5 separate regions of the Homo sapiens genome follow, and all the other regions are reported to be linked to region 2. The links are microRNA targets in miRTarBase. Many come from high-throughput screens and were not tested one by one. Region 2 holds a microRNA gene; each other region holds the end of a gene's coding sequence.

What was found. Region 2 holds the annotated microRNA hsa-miR-6780a-3p (CUCCUCUGUUUUCUUUCCUAG, at 1,115-1,135, opposite strand). A microRNA usually pairs through its seed, bases 2 to 8, with sites in the 3' UTR of a target mRNA and lowers its output. Matches are read on the target gene's strand: a 7mer-m8 pairs with bases 2 to 8, a 7mer-A1 pairs with bases 2 to 7 and ends in A, and an 8mer does both.
Region 1: the mRNA of CMKLR1 is a reported target of hsa-miR-6780a-3p. Seed matches in the 3' UTR shown: 7mer-A1 at 2,925-2,931 and 7mer-A1 at 371-377.
Region 3: miRTarBase lists AMZ1 as a target of hsa-miR-6780a-3p. Seed matches in the 3' UTR shown: 7mer-A1 at 3,758-3,764 and 7mer-m8 at 947-953.
Region 4: miRTarBase lists TAS2R4 as a target of hsa-miR-6780a-3p. Seed matches in the 3' UTR shown: 8mer at 2,982-2,989 and 7mer-A1 at 2,455-2,461.
Region 5: the mRNA of TIPARP is a reported target of hsa-miR-6780a-3p. Seed matches in the 3' UTR shown: 7mer-A1 at 836-842.

The regions. Positions count from the first base shown.
Region 1 is chr12:108,288,391-108,292,508 of GRCh38, forward strand. It overlaps CMKLR1 (chemerin chemokine-like receptor 1), which reads right to left. Exons shown (of 4, transcript NM_001142343.2): 4 at 1-4,118. The coding sequence ends at 3,451. Among named protein-coding and RNA genes, the nearest start is that of CMKLR1, 49 kb to the right of the region's middle.
Region 2 is chr17:42,706,970-42,711,087 of GRCh38, forward strand. MIR6780A (microRNA 6780a) reads right to left here and starts at 1,182; the gene lies at 1,115-1,182. It overlaps EZH1 (enhancer of zeste 1 polycomb repressive complex 2 subunit), which reads right to left. Exons shown (of 21, transcript NM_001991.5): 13 at 2,877-2,968; 14 at 1,907-1,947; 15 at 989-1,114.
Region 3 is chr7:2,712,615-2,716,732 of GRCh38, reverse strand. AMZ1 (archaelysin family metallopeptidase 1) reads right to left here. Exons shown (of 7, transcript NM_001384743.1): 7 at 1-4,118. The coding sequence ends at 3,855. Among named protein-coding and RNA genes, the nearest start is that of AMZ1, 26 kb to the right of the region's middle. RefSeq lists an enhancer at 1,107-1,156 and a silencer at 3,392-3,591.
Region 4 is chr7:141,778,699-141,782,816 of GRCh38, reverse strand. TAS2R4 (taste 2 receptor member 4) reads right to left here. Exons shown (of 1, transcript NM_016944.2): 1 at 1,126-4,118. The coding sequence ends at 3,429. Among named protein-coding and RNA genes, the nearest start is that of TAS2R4, 4.1 kb to the right of the region's middle.
Region 5 is chr3:156,704,909-156,709,010 of GRCh38, forward strand. TIPARP (TCDD inducible poly(ADP-ribose) polymerase) reads left to right here. Exons shown (of 6, transcript NM_015508.5): 6 at 1-1,862. The coding sequence ends at 223. Among named protein-coding and RNA genes, the nearest start is that of TIPARP-AS1, 31 kb to the left of the region's middle.

The DNA of each region.
Region 1 (4,118 bases), not on the chromosome of region 2:
GGCAAGATGAGTTTGAAGGTCCCTTATGGTTTTCACGATTGGATTCTATCTTCTCCCACCCATCCAGGCTCCCAACCCCACCAGAGCTGACTCTGGGGTCGAATTTGAGCCAATCCCCTCCCTTTGTCAGTGCCCAGTTTCCTCACCCCTTCTGAACCTTGCTGCCAGAATCTCTGTGCCTCTTCTCTGGAGAAGGACCCAGGAACCTGCAGGGCTCTGTGCGCTCTGGGAATTATCTAAGGCTGGCAAAGGCATCCCGGTGCTTGAGGCCCTTCGTGTTCTTGCTCTTCCCTTCTCCCTGTCCTTGCTGGCTCAAGGGTCAGCTGGAGATGGTTCTGAAATCAAATTCCTCCCACTCTTTGGACTTCCATTCCTCTCCCCTTCTCTCTTCTTTCTTTCTTCCTTGTCTTTTCCTTCTTCTTCTCCCCACCCTCTCCTTCCAAGGGCTGAAGAAGTTGGGCATTCAGGCAGCTGACCTGATTCAAAGCCCAGCTCCATACCTCACTAGCTGTGCAACTCTGAACTAGTGAAGTCTGTTCTTGAAACAGAAACTCACTTTCTGCACCCCCCCCCCACCTTGCTATGATGGTCCCCTTCTGCCAGGGCCAATTTGAGGTTTCAGTGTTTGTGCCTGAACCATCGTAGGTGCTTCATGAATGCCAGATCCCTTTCCTTCATCATCATGCTCTGGGACCTTTCTGTCCCCTCTCCTGTCCCTCCCCTATCCTCAAACACCATCTTCTTTTCTTTTCCCTCTACCTCTTGTCCTCACGATCCCTCAGCTCCCCCACCCCACCCAGGAGGCAGGGCTAAGTAAGGCCCCATCACTGAGTCCTGGGCCCAGAGAGAAGGCTCTGGGCACTAAGTATGTTGGTTGCCTGTGCAGCAGTGCAGGTGAGCACACTTTGCACACTGCAGGGACGATATATGCATGACCCATGGAGATGTTCACATGAAGCTGTGGGGACAAGACTGTATGGGATGTTAAGGCTGCATTTAAGTACTTGACAGGAACCTAAGTCAGAACAGGAAGACCCACAGAGCAGCCAGAAAGAGGGAGGCCAGACTCTAAGGAGGAAAACAGCCGGTTTGAATTGTGCTCCTGTTTATCAGCTTTTCCAATGACAACATGAATTCCTGGCTCCCCCATCCTGGCCTGGACTGCCAGAAGCCCAGGAAAAGCAGCATCCTACAAGCCAGGAGGGCCAAGGCGCTGACGACTGCTGCTGTGACCCGGGACAGGTCCCATCCCATCTCGTGCCTCAGTAAATGTGGGAAGAGGGGAGATGGGGGCCACTGAGCAATATTTAAAGCTCCCTTTTTGCTCTCAAACCGTCTATATTCAAACTCTTTAAAGCATTCAGAGGCTCCAGCTTGGGATCAATTCAGAGCTGCCTTGTCATAAGCATTAAGGCACAATAAGGGAAGGAACAGTTTGTCTCTTAATGAAGTGTGATTCCAAACAGCCCATGGCCTCGGGAACTCGCCCAGCGCGGGGTAGACATTGCATCTGTTCATTGCATCTTGTTGGAGAATCAGCTTAACAATGAAGGGACTTGGAAGAGAACAGAATGTGGACACTTAGGAGCCAAAGGGCCTCAGGCCCACAAGGGACTGCCTCCTGCCAGCTTTCCCTCCCCATTGCCTTGATCTCTGGAGACATAGGAGGTGGGAGCCACGGTAGGAGGCTGTTAATGGCTGTTGAGGGAGCTGGAAGCCAAGTGCATTTTCTCTGCCATGTTGCATCATTTTTGAAAACTATTTGCAAAGTTTCTTAAAGGCCATTAAGATGTTCATCCTCATTTGCAGAAAAATCAATATTTATGGCAAAAATCTCCAAACTTTTTAAGTCCTTCCCAACTCTGCAGCCTCATTTGAGCCAGGCAAACTGAAGTTCAAATCCAAGCTCCGGCAGAGACTAGCTGGGTACCTTTGGGCAAGTTACTTAACCTCTCTAAGCCTCAGATTCCTCCTATGTAAAAGGGAAGTTATAACCATACCTAACTCAGGGTTGCTGTAATGATTAAATGAGAAAACATATGTAAAGTGCATAATATAAAAAGTGCTAAATAAATGTAGGCTATCAATATACTAGAATAATCTCCACAGATAAATTCCAAATAGAAGAACAGAGTTTCTGGAGCCAGACGGAGCCAGGTTCAGATCTTAACTCTGCCACTGATTAGCTGTGTGATGCTGGGCAAGTTACTTTCCCCATCTGGGCCTCAGCTATGTCATTTGTAAATGGGGCTATGACACTCTGTGGCCACAGGGACGTGTCAGTATTAGATGAGAAAAGCCATGCCAGGCACCTGTATCCAGGAGGTATTTGGTGTCTGCAGCTCAGAAACACAGTTCAAGGAGTCCAGCTCCAGACTCTGTCTCAAGTGACTGAGTCCTCGGACATACTCTTCTTCCCAGGGGACTCTCCGGAGTTGCTTCCCAAAGCTGCATTTTGGACCTGTCTCCAAAGGCGTTGAGGAAATTAACCAGAATGAGAAGCCCCACCACCAGTGTTTTATTCTAAGCACCTCCAGCCAGAGCTGAGTGGATTAGGAAAGGCAGAAAAAAATCCCTGTGATGGGGTGAGGGCTGCTGGTGAAGATGCCTGCCACAACCCCACCCCCAGGTAAGAGGGGCAAGGTGAGATCAGGGGCTGGCACCACCCTGACGCCCCAAATAGCTCCAGCCTAAAGCACCATCAGCCTGCGATGTTCTAGGGTGAGCTGCTCCATGCCTGCATCCTTTAAAGGTTCTTTTCTCCTTTCTCATTTCTTTGCCAAATCTCAAGTCCTCGTTGCATCCCTCACTTGTCTTGCCCTTGCAAAGAGCCCACAGGACCTCTCAGGACCAGTTCTCTGTCTTCCTAGCTGATCCGAAAGCCAAATTCATGGCCTATGGAGTTCATGGGCTGATATGTCACCTTCCTCTCCCAGATCACCTATGCATTTCCACATACTTTAACACAGAGCAGTGACTTGAAGGTAGGGTTTTCTGGCCAGCTACTGATAATATATATACAAGGGCCAAGTGTGATCTGCATCACACTGGGTTTGCTCTGACCCCCTCACTGCTCACACCAGGAATGGACCTTGGAGAGTGTCATTTCTGGGGCACACACAATAGGCAGCTTAATCCCACCGCCCTATGCCAATCCCAGTTCATGGCAATGCTTTTGAGAATTCTTCCTTTTTTGCTTTGAGTCAGTCAAGGCTGGCCTCCCAAGAAGCATAAATTGCTAGTCCAAGGCTGTATGGAACACAGCATGTTCTGTCCACTAGAAGAAAGGGGTTCCAGGCCCTAGATTCCCAGCATAAAACACTGTTCATCCCATGCAAAATGCAGTGAAAATTGGTGGATGCTAAAGAGGTTCTTGCCTTGATCTTCAGAAGACATATCCTTGGGTGTCCCTGGGTTGAGAGAGTCCATTGAGGGGTTCCACAGTGAGGATCAAAGCATGCCGGTCTCCCTCTCATTCATAGAAGTCCTCTCATTCATTGATGACATCTTGGTAAAGCTTCTATGGCTGGGGTAGGAAGAGTGGCCTGTATCTTCACTTAGAGCATTGACCAGGCGAGAGAAGAGGGCCACCTTGAACTTCTTGAAGTCCTGACCCATGAAAACATACAGAATGGGGTTCATGCAGCTGTTGGCAATGGCAAGGGCAGTGGCCAGGGGCAAACCCAGGCTGAAGACAGAGCCAGGCATGGCAGTGTGGTGGAGCTCTAGGAGGTTGAGTGTGTGGTAGGGGCACCAGCAGAGGAAGAAGGTAATGATGATGGTCACAATAATCTTGAAGGGCTTCTTGGTCTTGGCCAGGCGGTTGCGCTGCAGTTTGCACACGATGGTGAGGTAGCAAGCTGTGATGATGAGGACTGGGACCAGGAAGCCACAGAGGAAGCGGGTGACAGTCACCACCATGTGCCGGCTATACCCCACAGGGTCCATTTGGGAGTGAGTGGGCCACGAGGAAGACCCAGGTGTGGACAGGCTGAAGTTGTTGAAGCAGGATATTTTCCCATGCAGGTTGGCTGTGTCCCGGAAGACGAGAGATGGGGAACTCAAGAAGAAAGCCAGGACCCAGATGACCATGCAGGCCATGTAAGCCAGGCGAACGC
Region 2 (4,118 bases):
TCCAGCAAAACCGCCTGGGCACCAAGTTCTGCAAGCTGTGGGGACTGCCATCAAACTGCTCAGCTTTGAGTTGGGAAGGGCATGGTGGGATAAGAAGTAAAAGATAAGTACCCGGATGTCTCTGCTGACATCCAGGCCCCTGTCTTCTACCTGATATTAAAACTCCAGCTATGAAATGAAAATAGACATACACAGAATCACAAACAAAAAATATCTGAATAAAAAATTTTTTAAAACAGTATTCAGAAAAGGGAAACTGGGGCTGTAACTTAAAAAAAAAAAAAAGAGTCCCACATTTCTTTTCTTTTTGAGACAGAGTCTTGCTCTGTTGCCCAGGCTGGAGTGCAGTGGCACAATCTTGGCTCACTGGCAGCCTCTGCCCTCTGGGTTCAAGCAGTTCTTGTGCCTCAGCCTCCCAAGTAGCTGGGACTACAAGCATGTACCACCATGTCTGGCTAATTTTTGTATTCTTAGTAGAGACGGGGTTCACCATGTTGGCCAGGCTGGTCTTGAGTCCTGACCTTAAGTGATCTGCCCGACTTGGCCTTCCAAGTGCTGGGATTATAGGCGTGAGCCACCACACCTGGCCTAATTTTTTTATTTTTAGTAGAGATGAGGTTTCGCCAAGTTGGCCACGCTGGTCTTGAACTCCTGACCTCAAGTGATCCGCCTACCCAAAGTGCTGGGATTACAGGCGTGAGTGACTGCGCCTGCTGCCCCCCACATTTCTTAATTCTCCCCTAGAAGACAAAGTTGGGAAAGTATCTGATTTCTGTGTAATTGCTGCTTTTAGAATCATGAACCTAAACGTTTTCCAGAAACGACTCTCCCAGATCTCATGCACTTATTTCATTTGTAGAATCCCTAAAACACAGCAAAGGGGATATCAGAAGGCCATAAGCAGTAAAGGGCACAGGAATGGGGCAAGCCTAGGGCACACTGGAGCCAACTGTTTTGGTAGACTATACAGAAAACGTAGCACACTTACAGTCTGGGTTGCACTGGCAGAACTTCTCACAGAAATTCTGAGTCATGATGCAGGGGCAGGTGCTGTCACAGGGGCGGTCTGGGTGGTCGCAGGGTTGGTAGTTGTACACTTGTGTGGAAGAGTTATCTAGGAAAGAAAACAGAGGAGGATGCTGCTGTGACCATACTCTCCAGCTGTCTTCCCTCCCAAGTGTCCAGCTGCCCTGATTCAGAGGAGGCTGGTCCTAACAATCTCCTTGGACACACATTTAGCACCTGAAGTGAGAAGACAGGGATGACCGTTGTTCATAAGCTGCAGTGGGGTGATCTGCTTTGTGGGGAGGGTGTGGAGATGGTCTGGGACAACAGGGAAGCTATTCTAAACATTAAATGAGGTCTGGAACCTAGCAAATGGCACACTAGAAAAGTCACATACTGGCCAGGCACAGTGGCTCACGCCTGTAATCCCAGCACTTTGCGAGGCCGAGGCAGGTGGATCATTTGAGGTCAGGAGTTCGAGACCAGCCTGGCCAACATGGTGAAACCCCGTCTCTACTAAAAATACAAAAATTAGCCAGGCATGGTGGTACATGCCTGTAATCCCAGCTACTTGGGAAGCTGAGGCAGGAGAATTGCTTGAACCCGGGAGGCGGAGGTTGCAGTGAGCCAAGATTGTGCCACTGCACTCCAGCCTGGGTGACAGAGCGAGGCTCCATCTCAAAAAAAAGAAAAATCACAGACCACAAGGCCCTTAATGTTACCTCCTAAGAGGTCTTCTCAGTTGCAGTGAGAGGCTCAGCTGTTCTCAGTTGCTGCAGAGAATTCTGCAATCTGCGGAAGTGGCACAGGGTCAACAAGTGCAGCTGGAGGTGGGGTAGGGTGATGACCACAGAGTGAGGCCTCCAGCTGAACTGCTGAAGAATGCCCTGGTAGAACTTACCTTTCTTCAGCTGAATCTTCCTGCAGTGTGCAGCCCACAATCTGAAAAAGACAGGAAGGACAGGTCTCAGTCACGGCCCTAGGGAGCTCTGCAAATGCAGGTAAATGACAACGTGACTTGCTCTGAGGGACTGTGTTTGATGACTGGGGAGTATCTTCCCAAACCCCTCAACAGGACGACTTTGGTACACAGAAGCTAGAGTCCATCCTAAATCCAGCTGGCCTGTGCTACAAGAGTTAAACTTAAACACAACCCCTCCCAAACAAGCAAATAACATAAAAGAACACAACACAGAAATAAAAGAAAGCCCAAGCCTATTGGTCTATTATAAAGCTATTGTTTCTCTCCAAATCTCTCCCTTTGTCTTTGTGGAGGTGGAGATATGGGGGAGTTTCAAGATGGGGAGGTGGGAAGGCCTTTCAGGAATCTTCTCTGAAAGAACTGAAAGGGAGGAGCCACAGGGATTTCCTTCTGTATCTAGAAGTGGTGTCAGCTCCTTCCTCTGATAGGTGATAGTCACTAGGGAACAGGGCCAGGGTGCAGAATTTTTTTAAAAACTTCCAACCTAAGTAAAGGCTATCATGTAACTCAGAAAAACAACACAAACCAAACAAATAAATAAACTCTGATCAGAGTTGAGAAATGGGTAAGGTGGTAACAAAACCAACAAGGAGAAATGGCTTCAGGGTGGAGCCATGAGGCCAGCTCATGTCCTATTGGCCAGAAGCTTAAATAGAAAAACAGACAGTTATGGTCCACAGCACTGGGGGACAAGAAGAGGGCTGATCTAAGGCACAGACCCTCAGGGAGCACTCAGGAGGCTGGCTCTCAGTCATGTGATGCCAAGCTGATGGGCTCACACAGCCTGTGCGGTTGCTAAAGAGGGAGGCAGATGGGAACTCCAAGGGGAGGTCAGAGCACAGGGAACAGCCTGGCTGTAAAACAAAACACTTTGTCCAACCCTTCTTGCCTGTGCTTTCTTTTCTTCTTCTGTGAGGGGTTCATGAGCTCATCTGTTGGCAGCTTCAGGATAAGTGATTCTTTGACTGCAAACTGAAAGACCTGGAAGAGAAATCCAACGGGCCTGTCACTCCTCGAGCAAGGGGGTCAGGTAAGTGGCCCAGCTGGGTGCTGGCCTTGGGAGGGTTCTGAGAAACTCAGGCAGCTGACCAAGCCTCTCATCAGTCAGGGAGAGACAGAGTGCCACTGGAACATTGGGTTACTGGCTCTGAAGTTCATTCCTAATTATTTATCCTGACTCAGGAAAGGAGAAATACTGAGCACAGTAATACCGCCCCTGGTCAGAAGCTGTCACCTACTACTCTTTCTACCAAGCCACGGGTAGAAGAGTGGGCTGACTGTGACCAACAGTATCTTCTTCTTTTTAGGAAGGGCAACGCTGTGCCTTGTGTAACTGAGTGTAAGGCAGGACAGGACAGGACAGGAATGGTTTCAGTGGGCTAAATATTAGCTCCCTCTGTCAGTATAAAGATACCGGAGCCTCAGCCATTTCAATAGGATGTGTTTTTTCTCTTAAAGCACTGGTTTTTAGTTTTTCCTTTTCTTTGTTGGGGCTATTGGCCCTTTGTGGGGGATCTTTGAAAACTGTAACTATTCTCAGGAAAATACAGACAAGAACATTCTTGCATACAAATCCATAGATGGTTACGTTGAGAACCTGTGATCAGGGAAATAGGTATGAGCTCCAAAATGAAAGCAAAGGGCACTTCAGCTCATGGTTCTGTTTTTGTTTGTTTTTTTTTTTTTTTTTTAAGAGAGAGGGTCTCATACTCTTGGCCAGGCTGGAGTGCAGTGGTGCCATCATAGCTCAATGTAGTATAGAACTCCTGGGCTCAAGCCATCTTCCCACCTCAGCCTCCTGAGTACTAGGACTACAGGTACGTGGCTTTTTTTTTTTTTTTTTTTTTGTAGAAATGGGGTCTCACTTTGTTGCCCACACTGGTCCTGAAATCCTGGCTTCAAGCGATCCTCCCACCATGGCTTCCCAAAGCACTGGAATTCTAGGTGTGAGCCACCTTGCCCAGTCCATGGTTCTATTAATTGTTCTCAGTACAGGAAGCATGAAGAAGAGGCCACAGAGTCTCCTCCAGAAGGTAGGAAGCCAAAGCATTGGGGTTCCTTTCCTGTTGGACATGCTGGCCCTGACAGCTGCCTCCTTGTCCCTGTTCTTCAGTCTGTCTTCTCACTGTGG
Region 3 (4,118 bases), not on the chromosome of region 2:
CTTGCCTGTCCAGGTGGGCCTTGGGCAGGGCAGCCGGTCCCTCTCTCCGAGGCCTGGCCGTCCCTGCCTGGTGGGTCTGCAGAGCAGCTCCCTTGGCACTGTATGGAGACCCTCTGCGTGTAGGTGTGTCCCTGGAATGTTCTAGCCTCCCCCTTTGAACTTGGTGGGATCTAAATTTGGACTCCCAGCTTTATCACTCGTGCTTGACTAAGCCATTTTATGTTTAAGGCTTTTGGAGATTTCGTTCATCGGGGAAAGGTCTGAAGCAAATATTAACAGGTCGGCATCCCTCCCTCCTCACCCATGCTCTGGAAACGGGTGGTGGCAGAGCTCCACTCACTGTCCCGTGCCCTCAGGGTTCACACCATGGACAGGAGTCAGGATGCTGCTTCTCCCCTCTCCCCACTCTGACAATGAGTTTGGGCTTTTTGGGGAGGAAGAGAGGGAAAAGAATGAGATTTCGGAAGAGGACTGCGGGGCTGCCTGAAGAGAGATTTGCCTCAGAGGGGACACTGCTTCTCACCCCTTCATCATAGCATGGCTGTGACGTGGGAGTGTGTATTCTAGCCACTTCAGAAGGCATGTGTTAGCTTCCCCAGACTCATCGCACACACAGCAATACAGATAACATCTGTCATGACCTGAAACTATTTTTAGCTCCATGAGGCCCCGCTGACTTGGCTTACCAAGATGGGTGAGGCTCTCCGAAGAGAGGTCATCGTCAAGCTGGAAGACCCATCCTTGTGAATGCAGGGGCTTCTGACAGATGAGACGAGAAAGCAATTCAGTGGACTTTGCACGTGTTTAAAAACTGAAAGAACCGTGGCCCTGTGTGTCTTGGAAACCATCATCTCTAAATTTAATCTCAGTTCAACTTCTGCAGCACTTAAGTTTAGAAAGATTCGTGAGCTGTGACCTTCCTCGAGAAGGCAGCCCTCATTCTCTCTCCTCTGCCTTGCGTCTTTCCTGGTGACTGTCCCAAGTCACTCTTCACCACAGCACAGACAGAACCTGGGGCTAACACGGGGGAGAGGAGGGAAACCAATTTCTCTTCCTCAAAGTTGCATTTCAAAACAGTCCTTCTAACAGCTGTCTTAAAAAATTTCACTGACATCTGCAAGTTGGTAAACGCTGCGGATAAAAGGAGTTTTTTTTAGTGGTTTGCTCCTTCCCACTTCAAAACGCTTTTTTGGGACACACATCACAGCTGAGGGTCAAAGGACACGGGTACAGAGAGCGCCGAGGCTTTGGTCATAACCCCAGTGGGCTCCCACCCTCAGCATGAGCCAGGCATTCTATTTTTATCACCTCTGTTTAATCTCGCATCACTCCAGCGGTTAACCTTTTGCAGAAGATGAAGGAAATCGGAAAACAGGTCAGGCCACCTCGCAGGTGCACCAGCCAAATCCCCACAGTGAACGCCGAGTGGGGCTGACTGACTGTTCATGAATGGCCACAGCAATATTGTGTTGTCTCACATTCCCTGCCACGTCCCCTCCCCGTGAACCTGGGGTGGGGTCCTTGTCACTGCCGCCGTGGAGTGCAGGAAAGGTGACGCTCTGTGACGTGAGGCCGAGTTAGGAAAGGCCACAGAGCTTCCATCTGACCCTCCCGATGTCCACCTTAGGAGGGCAACCGCCATATTGTGAGGAAGCCCAGGTCCCTTTCTGAAAGTGACCCTCTTTTTTTCGTCTCCCCTCTTTATTCTGGCACAGTTACCTCCCAGGTCACTGTCATGCCCTTTAGAAGCCATGCAAAAGAGAAGGGTATGGATGAAGGTCCTAATGCTACATCTGAGCTTCTCTGAAATCAACACATACTTGTCCCTTTGCATTTTCCGGGACTGGGACCAGGAGCCTGCTGTCTGGCTCTGGCTGCCCTGTTTGTCGGGTTTCCTCACGGTATGGCAGCTGCCTTCCTAAGAAGATGCCCCTCCTCCATGGAGAGTCTCACGTGGGCAGGAACCAAGGCCTGAGATTCCCAGCCAAATTCCACTTGGCAGCCGTGTGAACGAACACTCCAGTCGAGCCACAGGGGCAAACCGTCTCCACCGAGCTCTGCCCAAGTTACAGATTCATGAGCTAGACTGTGGTGATTTTAAGCCACTAAGTTTTGGGTGGTTGTTTGCAGCAACAGCCACCAGGCTCCGGCTTTCACCTTCTGTTACTGCAGGGTGCTCTGCCGGCACCTTCCATTGGTCACTTTCTGAAAGGCCTAGCTCTTCATCTCCCCTCCCAGGTCACTGTTACGCCTTTTTGAAGCTACGCAAAAGAGAACGGGACGAAGATCCTAATGCTACTTCTGAGCTGCATCTTTGCTTCTCTGAAGTCAACACGGAGTGGGACCAGGACCGGGAGCCTTCAGTCGGCCTCCACCAATGTCAGATTCACAAGGAAGCCTCAGCCCACCTCACCTGCATAGCCCTTCTAGTTTTAGTTTTGTATTTTGTTTTTCTTAGAAGCCCTCCATAACCGTGTGAGCCACCCACCCACAAAAGGTCCAAGCTGCCCTGTTCTTGCCTCTCTCCAGATGAGGGTGCGCGAGCTGTGACCCCGCCCTCGTCACTCCGAAGGGATTCCGCTGTCAGAACCGGAAGTCTCTCTCCCAGAGACCCTCCACCACAGGCTGAGGGGGTACGTGTGACAATAAAAGGGTCAATTCCTCAGGAAGACACAACAATCAAATGTGCAGGGACGTAAAGGAGCTTCAAAGTGCAGGAAGCAAAATCCGGCAAAACTAAAGGGAGACAGATCAAACGCCCAGCCATGGCAATAATACCCCTCTCTCAGCAACTGACAGAACTAGACCGAAAAAAAAAGGAAAGACAGATCATCTGATCACCACCTCCAGCTACTTGGTACTGACAGCGCGGCCACCTTTGCCAAGAAACTGTCCCAAAAACATCACCACAGTTGATCTTCCCCACGGTGAGCTGTAGCCGCCTCAGGAATAAGGGGGCCTCTGCCCTCAGTGCACGTCAGACACCCTCACCTCCTGCAGTGTTTGTCAGAAGAGATGCCTGGAGAGCCCCGGTGAAGTCCGTCAGGATCAGGATGCTGTTAGCGCCACAGAACGTGACAGTGTGTGTGTGCATGTGGTTGACGCCTGAGATGATAGAGACAAAACCCCGTCACTTCCCCGTTAGGGAGGAGACTCAGCCTTGGAAGCTGGGTGGCAGTGTGGAGCCTGTGTGCCCCCGGGGTCACTCCTCATCTGAGCCAGCCTCTCCAGCTCCAGCTATAAATAACTGAAGGGCAGGCCCACAGCCTGGAAGGAGACAGGACGCACGCTGCTTCCTTCTGCCTCTGCAGGGGAGGGGGCTCTGTCCCAACCTCAGCACAGTCCGGCTTGTACTCCACGAGAAGCACCCAGGATCAGGGAGGCCTCTCCATGTGTGCAGGCCCCTGGGAGCGGCTGGCTGGGACTCAGGAGTTGAAGGAGGCGCCTGAAGACAGGTGGTCTGTGGCTTCTCCAAAGAACTTTTTTTTTTCTGGAGACAGTCTTTCTGTGTGGCCCAGACTGCAGTACAGTGGTATGATCACATCCCACTGCAGCCTCGACCTCCTAGGCTCAAGCAATCCTCCCACCTCAGCCTCCTGAATAGCTGGGAACACAGGCATGAACCACTTCATCCAGCTAATTTTTTAATTTTTCTTTTGTAGAGGCAGAGTCTCACCATGTTGCCCAGTCTGGTCTCAAACTCCTGGCCTCTCAAAGTGATGGGATGACAGGCCTGAGCCACCACCCAGGCAGACCCTTCCTCTTTATCCCTGGCAGGTCAGTAGTGGCCTCAGCTACTGGACAGTGCTGGCCAGCATCCTTAGGGAAGGAGACGTAGGGCAGCCCCTGCTGTACTAACTCTCTTCCCCATCCCAGGGACGGGGGGCCGACTCTGCTCTGGCGAGTTTTCGGGCACTCAGCTTCCTCCTCAGGGAGGAGAACTTGTCCCCCAGCACCTTGCGCAGCCCCACGCTGTCCCTGCTGCTGGGTGGGTCCTGCCTGGTGGCCGGGAGCTGGCCCGTGAACATCTCCCAGCGGTCGAGGGCGTCCACGGCTCTGTCCACCTGCACCAGGTCCTCCTCTGCCACTTCCCGCTGCAGGGCCTGGATGCACATGGC
Region 4 (4,118 bases), not on the chromosome of region 2:
CCTTCCCAAGTAGCAACATTCAAAAGAAATCTAATAATTTTTTCTTCTTTAATGTTACTACTTTTTCACTTAAAAACATATCTCATATAAATCTCAAGGCCTAAAAGCCCAGAGTCTATGTGACACCATGACATTCATTTCAGCTAAGGAAACTAAGCACCCACAATAATTTCATACTTTCAGAGACTACACTGGGAGCTCTGGATCTATTCCTTCCTAGTTCTGCTATTATGAACCATTCATATGGCTTATTTGGGCCTTAATTTTCTCAACTATATAATGGAGACAATAATAGCTATCTTACCAAAGAGGTTATGACCAACTAAAATAATAACGTGGAAATGTAGCTCATACAGTATTGGGCATGTAGCAGTTAAAAGTTAAATGGCAATGACCCTGAGTTCTGGTTACCACGATGGGTGTTTCATGAGGTTGTACACTGTCCTGACACCTGCCCTCCACTTCAGAAAGTGACTTCTTAACAAAGAGTTTTTAACCTCCCTCTATGCTCTGCCTACTGCAGGAAAGGGAGGGGTATGCGGGATATTATTTTTATTAGAGAGCCTCTAAGTTATGTGTCTTGAAAAAATCAAACCAAAATCCAAATTGTTTTAAATCCTTGGTTAATAAGTACTTAGTGGTGGGTATTTAGCAGAGCATATCAGAACCAGCAAAACTCTAAACATACAGCATTCTTAAAAACTGTACCCAAGGGAGACTTTGGGCAAGTGCCTAAGCAAAGACTGAAGACTTTCTTCAAACAGCAAAAACAGTCCTAACACAAAGACAACACATCCAACCCAGAGAGGGGAAAATTGAAGACAGTGTAGGACAAACAGGAAACAAATTGGCAGAACTTTGCCAATACAATAAAAAGAATCCAGACAAAGCAAGACAATTCACTTACCTTTCTTAGCGAGGACAAACTCGATGTTGACCTCAGAACTCCCTCTCTGTCTTTTAGGTAAGTAGGGAGGGAGGGAGGGAGGGAGGGAGGTGAGTGGGTTGGTGGATGGATAGATAGATAGATAGATAGATAGATAGATAGATAGATAGATAGACCATATATACATTATATATTTAAAAATATTTTTTGATTATATAAAAATGTTCATTATAGAAAACTTGAAATACACAAAAAAATTTATTGATTCCTCCCACCTAAAATAATTACTGTTTACATTTTTATATATTTCCTTTTAGACTTTTCTTCATATGTACACATTTTTACCAAAAAAAATGGTATTATACCACATGTACAGGTTTTATTTCAATTTCACTTAGTAGGTCATATAAAAAGGTTCTTTGACTAATAAGATGGTAAATACATACTATTTCATCATAAAGATATATATTATTGTGTATATTTAAGGTATAGCATAGGTTATTTGACTAAGGTAACAGAGACCAAAACTCCAGCACCTGAAAGAATGGAGACACTGATTTCTCATCAACAGTCCTGGAGTTCAGGCTTGAGCAGTCCAGAGCTGGTGTTACAAGTCCACAGTGTGAAGAACCATGGAGCCAGCTCTAGGATGGAGAATTACTTCACTATCCCAAGCATTCACCTCATCTGCATTGTCCAAGATAGACAATCATGATGTCAGCATTCCAGCTCATGGAGGGAGTAACAAAGAAAAGATTAAAGAAGGGAAGGTAGGACTGCTCCGAAGTACCACCCAGAAATTATATACATCTTTTCTGCTCACATACATGGCAATAATGGAATTTGCTGCCAAAATTCTGAACAGCTAATGATTTGATTACTATGGAAGAGAGGAGAAAGAACAGATACTGAGGGACCAATGAGGGTTTCTGCCACTCATTTAGAGTTCTTAAGACATAGTATGCATTTAATCACTCTCAGTAATCCTTTTATCTCTCTTAGGATTTAACATGATGAATACCTCCAGGTTTCATAGCACAAAATATTGGCTTGGGTAATTTTTACTGAATATTGCAGTCAAGATTCTGGTGGCCAGAATGAGAAAAGTCATGTAATTTATAAAATTTTAAGATTTATTTGACATATGTAAATATTACATAAGCATTTTATGAACACCAAAAAAAACCTAAATAAATACAAATTATGATTCCCCAATTGACATTCCAAAACTTGTCAACATCCCATCTTCAGACTGTTGTTCTTTTGGAGCCACAGTCCAATGGTCCCAGCCACAGAAACAACATTCTGGAGAAGAACTGTGCTGTGTACAAATGTATAAGCAGATGAAATAAATTCACCACAAGTCAAGCACTCCCACCACCTGTCCAGTGCTTTTTTGGCTTTCCACTGAGTTCCATAGCCTATGGTGAAGTACAGTATTTTGTAAATTTGTACTCATATGGTGTTAATTTCATTATCTAGCACTTGCCTTTGACCTTAAGCTGGTTTCCCTGGATTTTAAGATTTTTGGAACCATTCTTGATTCAGTTTCTTAAATACTAATCACTTTCCTCTACTTACCAACTCTGGCAATATCCTCTTTTCCAGAACAAGCCTAGAAACCTTAGGGTTTCTTGCTAGGAATAGCACAGTTACTATTACCCAGCAAGTGTGAGGATACTTTTTCTGTCTTGTCCCAGAGTGTACGTCTATTTCTTTTTTTGAGACAGAGTCTTGCTCTGTCGCCCAGACTGGAGTGCAGTGGCGCGATCTCATCTCACTGCAAGCTCCGCCTCCTGGGTTGAAGCCATTCTCCTGCCTCAGCCTCCCGAGTAGCTGGGACTACAGGTGCCCGCCACCACGCCCAGCTAATTTTTTTGTATTTTTAGTAGAGACAGGGTTTCACCGTGTTAGCCAGGATGGTCTCGATCTCCTGACCTCACGATTCACCTGCCTCGGCCTCCCAAAGAGCTGGGATTACAAGCATGAGCCACCGCGCCTGGCCCAGTGTACGCCTATTTCTCTTCACCTTTCTCTTTCCTTCTTTTCTCTCTGAAACCTTCCTTTTTTCCTTTTCTCTTTGCACTGAACCCCCTTCCTCTGCTTTCGGTCAGTCCAGTGGCTCCCAGTGACCACCTATCCACTGCTGAGCCCTTACTCAGGGCTCCTCAGCTAAACCACAAATATCTAACTCATCACGTGCACCCCAATGTGTTCTCTAATTTGGAAGAATTTCCCATTATACTTCAATAGACAATGAAACAATGTGATGATTTCCATTATACATGGATTCAATGGCCATGCAAAATACATGACAAATAATGCCTCAAAAAAGTTTCTTACAGAATGTGCCTTATTTTAAAATACTTACATACCAAAAAAAAAAAATTACAGAATGAACTGAAATTCAGGCACTCAAAAGCCTATGATGTCAGATCAGCAATCACAAAACTGAATTCCCCAGATCACTGGGAAAACTGCAAACAGAAAATCTTGCCCCCAAACCATCAGGTAAATCTAGGTATTGTTTACTGAAATTCCACTATTTTTTGAAACAAAGAATCTTCTTTGCTGTTGTTTTCAGTTTAGGATGTGTGATAATAATGAGAACAGAATGTCCTGGAGAGTAAAGGGTGGCAAAAATCAGACAAATGGATTTGGTCCCCATATCCATCCCTGCATAAAAGGGGAGATACTGGACCAGGGTAGCAACTGAATATGGAATGTAGAGGATGAGGAAATAGACCATCAGCTTCATAGCACCTACATGAGCTTCCGTCTGGGGATTCCAGAAACCAGTGGCATTTTTCTGCATCTTCTGTATATGTCTCCTCAAGGAGTGTATTAGCAAGGAAGCAGAAGTCACATTAATGATGAACTGGAGAGATGAGCTCAAGACCAAAGAAACCACTAAAGACAAGATGCCCTCACTGATATTAAATGATGTGTTATTTCTCGTAGTCACAAGTTCAGGAAAAGGTGATGCCTGGCTAAGCGTGATGTACAGGCAAGTGGTGAAAGCAGAAATCAGCACACAGGCCAGCAGCAGCCTGGGGATCTTTGGGGAGATATTCCGCTTCAGCAGGAGAAACACTGAGTGTTGGAAGTTAGTAATCTTCACACAGTACAAGATATTGAGCAAGGTCACAAACCAGACACTGCTCGAGTCCAAAAACATGAAACACAACACAAAAAAAGCAGACAGGTAGACTGACCTTTCCGTATTTGAAGA
Region 5 (4,102 bases), not on the chromosome of region 2:
CTTCATGTTTCTGGCCAAAGTGCTGACGGGCAGATACACAATGGGCAGTCATGGCATGAGAAGGCCCCCGCCAGTCAATCCTGGCAGTGTCACCAGTGACCTTTATGACTCTTGTGTGGATAATTTCTTTGAGCCTCAGATTTTTGTCATTTTTAATGATGACCAGAGTTACCCTTATTTTGTTATCCAATATGAAGAAGTCAGTAACACTGTTTCCATTTGAAAAATCTTGGTACTGCTAAATTATTTGATATGAACTCAATCCAGCATTTGTAGCAGGTTTTGAATGGGTGGGACTGGGTGGGGAACAGCATTGGACATTAATAGGGCACTTTTCAGACCCATTTTTTAAAGTGCTAGAAAATGCTTTTTTTAAAAAAAAAATACAAGTTTTAAAATGACCACTTACTCTTTAATTATTTACTAATTGCTAGTGTACTCAGTGTGGAAAAGACTACAGATTACACACTCTTTTCATTCACACTTGTACATATAGACAGCAATGTTATTAGGAGCATTAAATTAAAAAACTGAACAGCCTAATTTAAATGTGGCTTGGGCCTGGTAGAAGTTTGACCAAATGGAATGGAGGCTGTGAGCAATGTGAGGATTCTATTTATTTATTTACGTTTGATAAAACTTACTGGAACTAGTACTACCATGCGTATTCCCTGTCCAAAGCATCACTGCTTTGGTATAGTATAAGTTCATGAAATTCTGGTGGGTAGAAAGAAATTTTTATTTCTATCAGCAGTACTAAAATGTATCAGCCAACCAGAGAACATCAGTGACTTTAACTTCTGCAGAGTTTGCCCCAGAATTCAGAGTTCTATTTAGAGGAAGTTAAAACAACAACAAAAAACAACCATTTGAAAAATTTTTGTCACCAGCAAAACTTTTCACTAATTAGTGATATGAAATGTGATTTTTGTGTTGTTAAACTTCAGCTTTGGAAAACTCAGTCTCTTTCATTATCATCCATTCCAATTTGAAGGAGTTGGGCAGCTAATTTGGTTAAAGGCAGTCTTGAGGGTTAGAAGTATTACTTCCTTTTCGGGTTCCAGACCTAGCTTGTGACTGAAAGTTTTAGAAAAAGGAAGTACATCTATAGCCAAATTGATAAGGTTATTACTGTGTTTTGCACAAAGTATATTAGCAAAAGTATTTGCTGGAATTATTGGTAGATGGCAGTCCCACTCCTACACCTGCTTTGTCAGATACAGCTGGGTTCCCTGGCTGACTCTGTACCTTACTTACACTACTTACTTAATAGAAACACAAACTTGGAAATTGTGCCAGTGGTCCAGCTGGAGCACAACGTTTGGTGAATATGCTGTTTCCTCAGTTCAGAGAGGTAGCAACTAGGTAAACTCCTTATAAAAAGCAAATACCTGGATTTACAAAAGTGAAAGTAGTTGTTCACAAAAGAATTCGCCATGGAATTCTTTCAGTTACCAAGCTCTCCTGGTAATGTTTGTGGTTATATCATTTACACAAAACTTTTCAGGAACTTCTGTGTTGTTTAAGCAAGATGTATCTGTACTGATGTCTCAGTGAATCAGTCTGTTTATTAAGCACTTATCAGGGCTTCCACACACTTATTTATTTTGCCCTAGTTAATCCTGTTGTTTGCTGCCATTGGCATGAAATGGCCAACTGTGGCTGTTACAGTTCTTTCATTCAATTATAACTTGTAAACCAGTGACTCCTAATCTTTTTCAAGTTAAGACACCTTACCATTGCTTATTTGGTTTTATGAGACTTGTTCCTTTTTTTCTCCCTAAGGAAAAAGAAAGCTTTATGACATATTTATTTTTTTAATAAAACTAAGCAAAAATAAAACTTATGGTAATTCTTTAAAATTTGTTGTTGTTTTGGTTCCATTTAAGATCACTGGATTAATACATAGTTGGTGATCTGTAAATGTTGATTGGTTGGTTAAATGTATGATTGAGTGACTGAATGAACAGACCTAACCAGAACTTGCTGCTTAAACTTTTCTGCAGTGTGAATCTACAGAAAGTACATTATCTAGCAGCCCATTATCATTTACAAGAGAAGAATCAATATTTTATTTTGCAGGTAATACTTGGAGGAAATGGAAAAGTTTTTTTTTTTTTTTTTTTTGAGGCGGAGTCTTGCTTTGTCGCCAGGCTGGAGTGCAGTGGTGCGATCTTGGCTCACTGCAACCTCCACCTCCCAGGTTCAGGCGATTCTCCTGCCTCAGCCTCCTGAGTAGCTGGGATTAAGGCAACCGCCTCTATGCCCGGCTGATTTTTTTTTAATTATTACTTTTAATACAGACAGGGTTTCATCGTGTTGGCCAGGCTGGTCTCAAACTCCTGACCTCAGGTGATCTTCCCACCTTGGCCTCCCAGAGTGCTGGGATTACAGGTGTGAGCCACTGCACCTGGCCTCCAAAACTTTTTGAGCATCAACATGATACTGAAAGAAAATGCTCATTGGAACATACCAGATTCTGGATTTTCAGATTAGGAATGTTCAACTGGGAAATACACAAATACTTAAAAACCTGAAATCCGAAACACTTCTAGTCCCAGGTGTTTCCCATAAGGGAAACTCAATCTGTATCAGCAGACAGCTGCAGAGAAAAACATAAGCAGGTTGTCCCTTTCACTGGGTGTGAAGGAAATATAAAAAGGATTTGTATGGCCAGGCATGGTGGTTCATGCCTATAATCCCATCACTTTCGGAGGCTAAGGCAGGCGGATTGCTTGAGCTCAGGAGTTTGAGACCAGCCTAGGCAGCATGGCGAAACCCCGTCTCTACAAAAATAGAGAAATTAGCCGGGTGCGGTTATGTGTGCCTGTGGTCCCAGCTACTCAGGGGGCTGAGGCTTAAGCCCAGGATGCAGAGGTACAGTGAGCCGAGATTGTGCCACTGACTTCCAGCCTGGGCAACAGAGTGAAACTGTCTCAAGAAAAAAAAAGTGGGGGAATGGAATTGTAGAAGTCTCATCAGCTCTCAAAGCCCCTTAGATTTCAGCCAGCTAGCAAAGTCATCTGATTAGTATACATAAGCATTTCTAACAGTGCTTTTAGCCCCAGTGTAATGATTTTTATATCCCTGTAATAGCATCGTATGTTGTTTTAACTAAGTAATAACTACCAAGTCAGTCTAAATTTTGTAATGGTTCTATGGATTTAAAACATACTAAAAGGCATTCAGTAACTTCTACCAGCACAGCTGTAATTTACACCATTTCAAGAAGCTGGAACTTGCTCTTAAACTATGGTTAAGATTTCCAGGAAAAGAGAGTCTACAAACTCCCTGAGATTCCAGTCATACAATCCTATAGACAGGAAGATTTTGTATGTGTCCAAAGTTTATAAATATTGGATCCTTGGTATTATGAATCTAATACCCATCTCTGCACCTTGTTACAAACCTGTTTGTTTTAGTAAACAATTAGTTGGTTATAAAAAGTCACTAGGGCCTGATATACTTGTAAAGAAATTTTATTATATAAGGTCTGAAAATGACTAAATAGGAATCCAATACCATACTGTCAGTTTAAAGAGAGGTTTTTTCCTCCTTCATTTAAGGAAAGTAAGATTACTGCAAGATGTTTCTAGATTTCCTTAGTTTGAATCTAACAGTCAAAACACATTTTAGAAAATCCTACATAGTACTTTTCTGGAATCTAATCCATACCACGTATGTTGTTGCTATTACCATGCGGTTTTAAAAAAATAACTTAAGCTCTTCTATTGTAACTAAACTATACAGCCTTGAACAAATCACTTAACCTTACCACATGGTTAGTTTTCTCATCTTTCTCATCTTTGACTTTTTTAAATGACTATAAATGATGAGACTATCTAACTTTAAAACACTACAATGCAAAAATTTTTTGTAAAGTGCTATACAAACAACTTATAGCATGTACTTACAAATTAAAAGCCAGATACATTTTCCATTAAAAGATAGTTTTAAAAACAGTCCCATCTAGTTTGTTGATTTAAGTACTCTTATTATGGCCAAGTTAAAGAAATTAAACAGTGCTTTTTACCTTCTTTAACTTTCTAATCTTACTTGTAAGCCATCATTATAGAAAGAAAAAGATGCTATTGAAAGATTT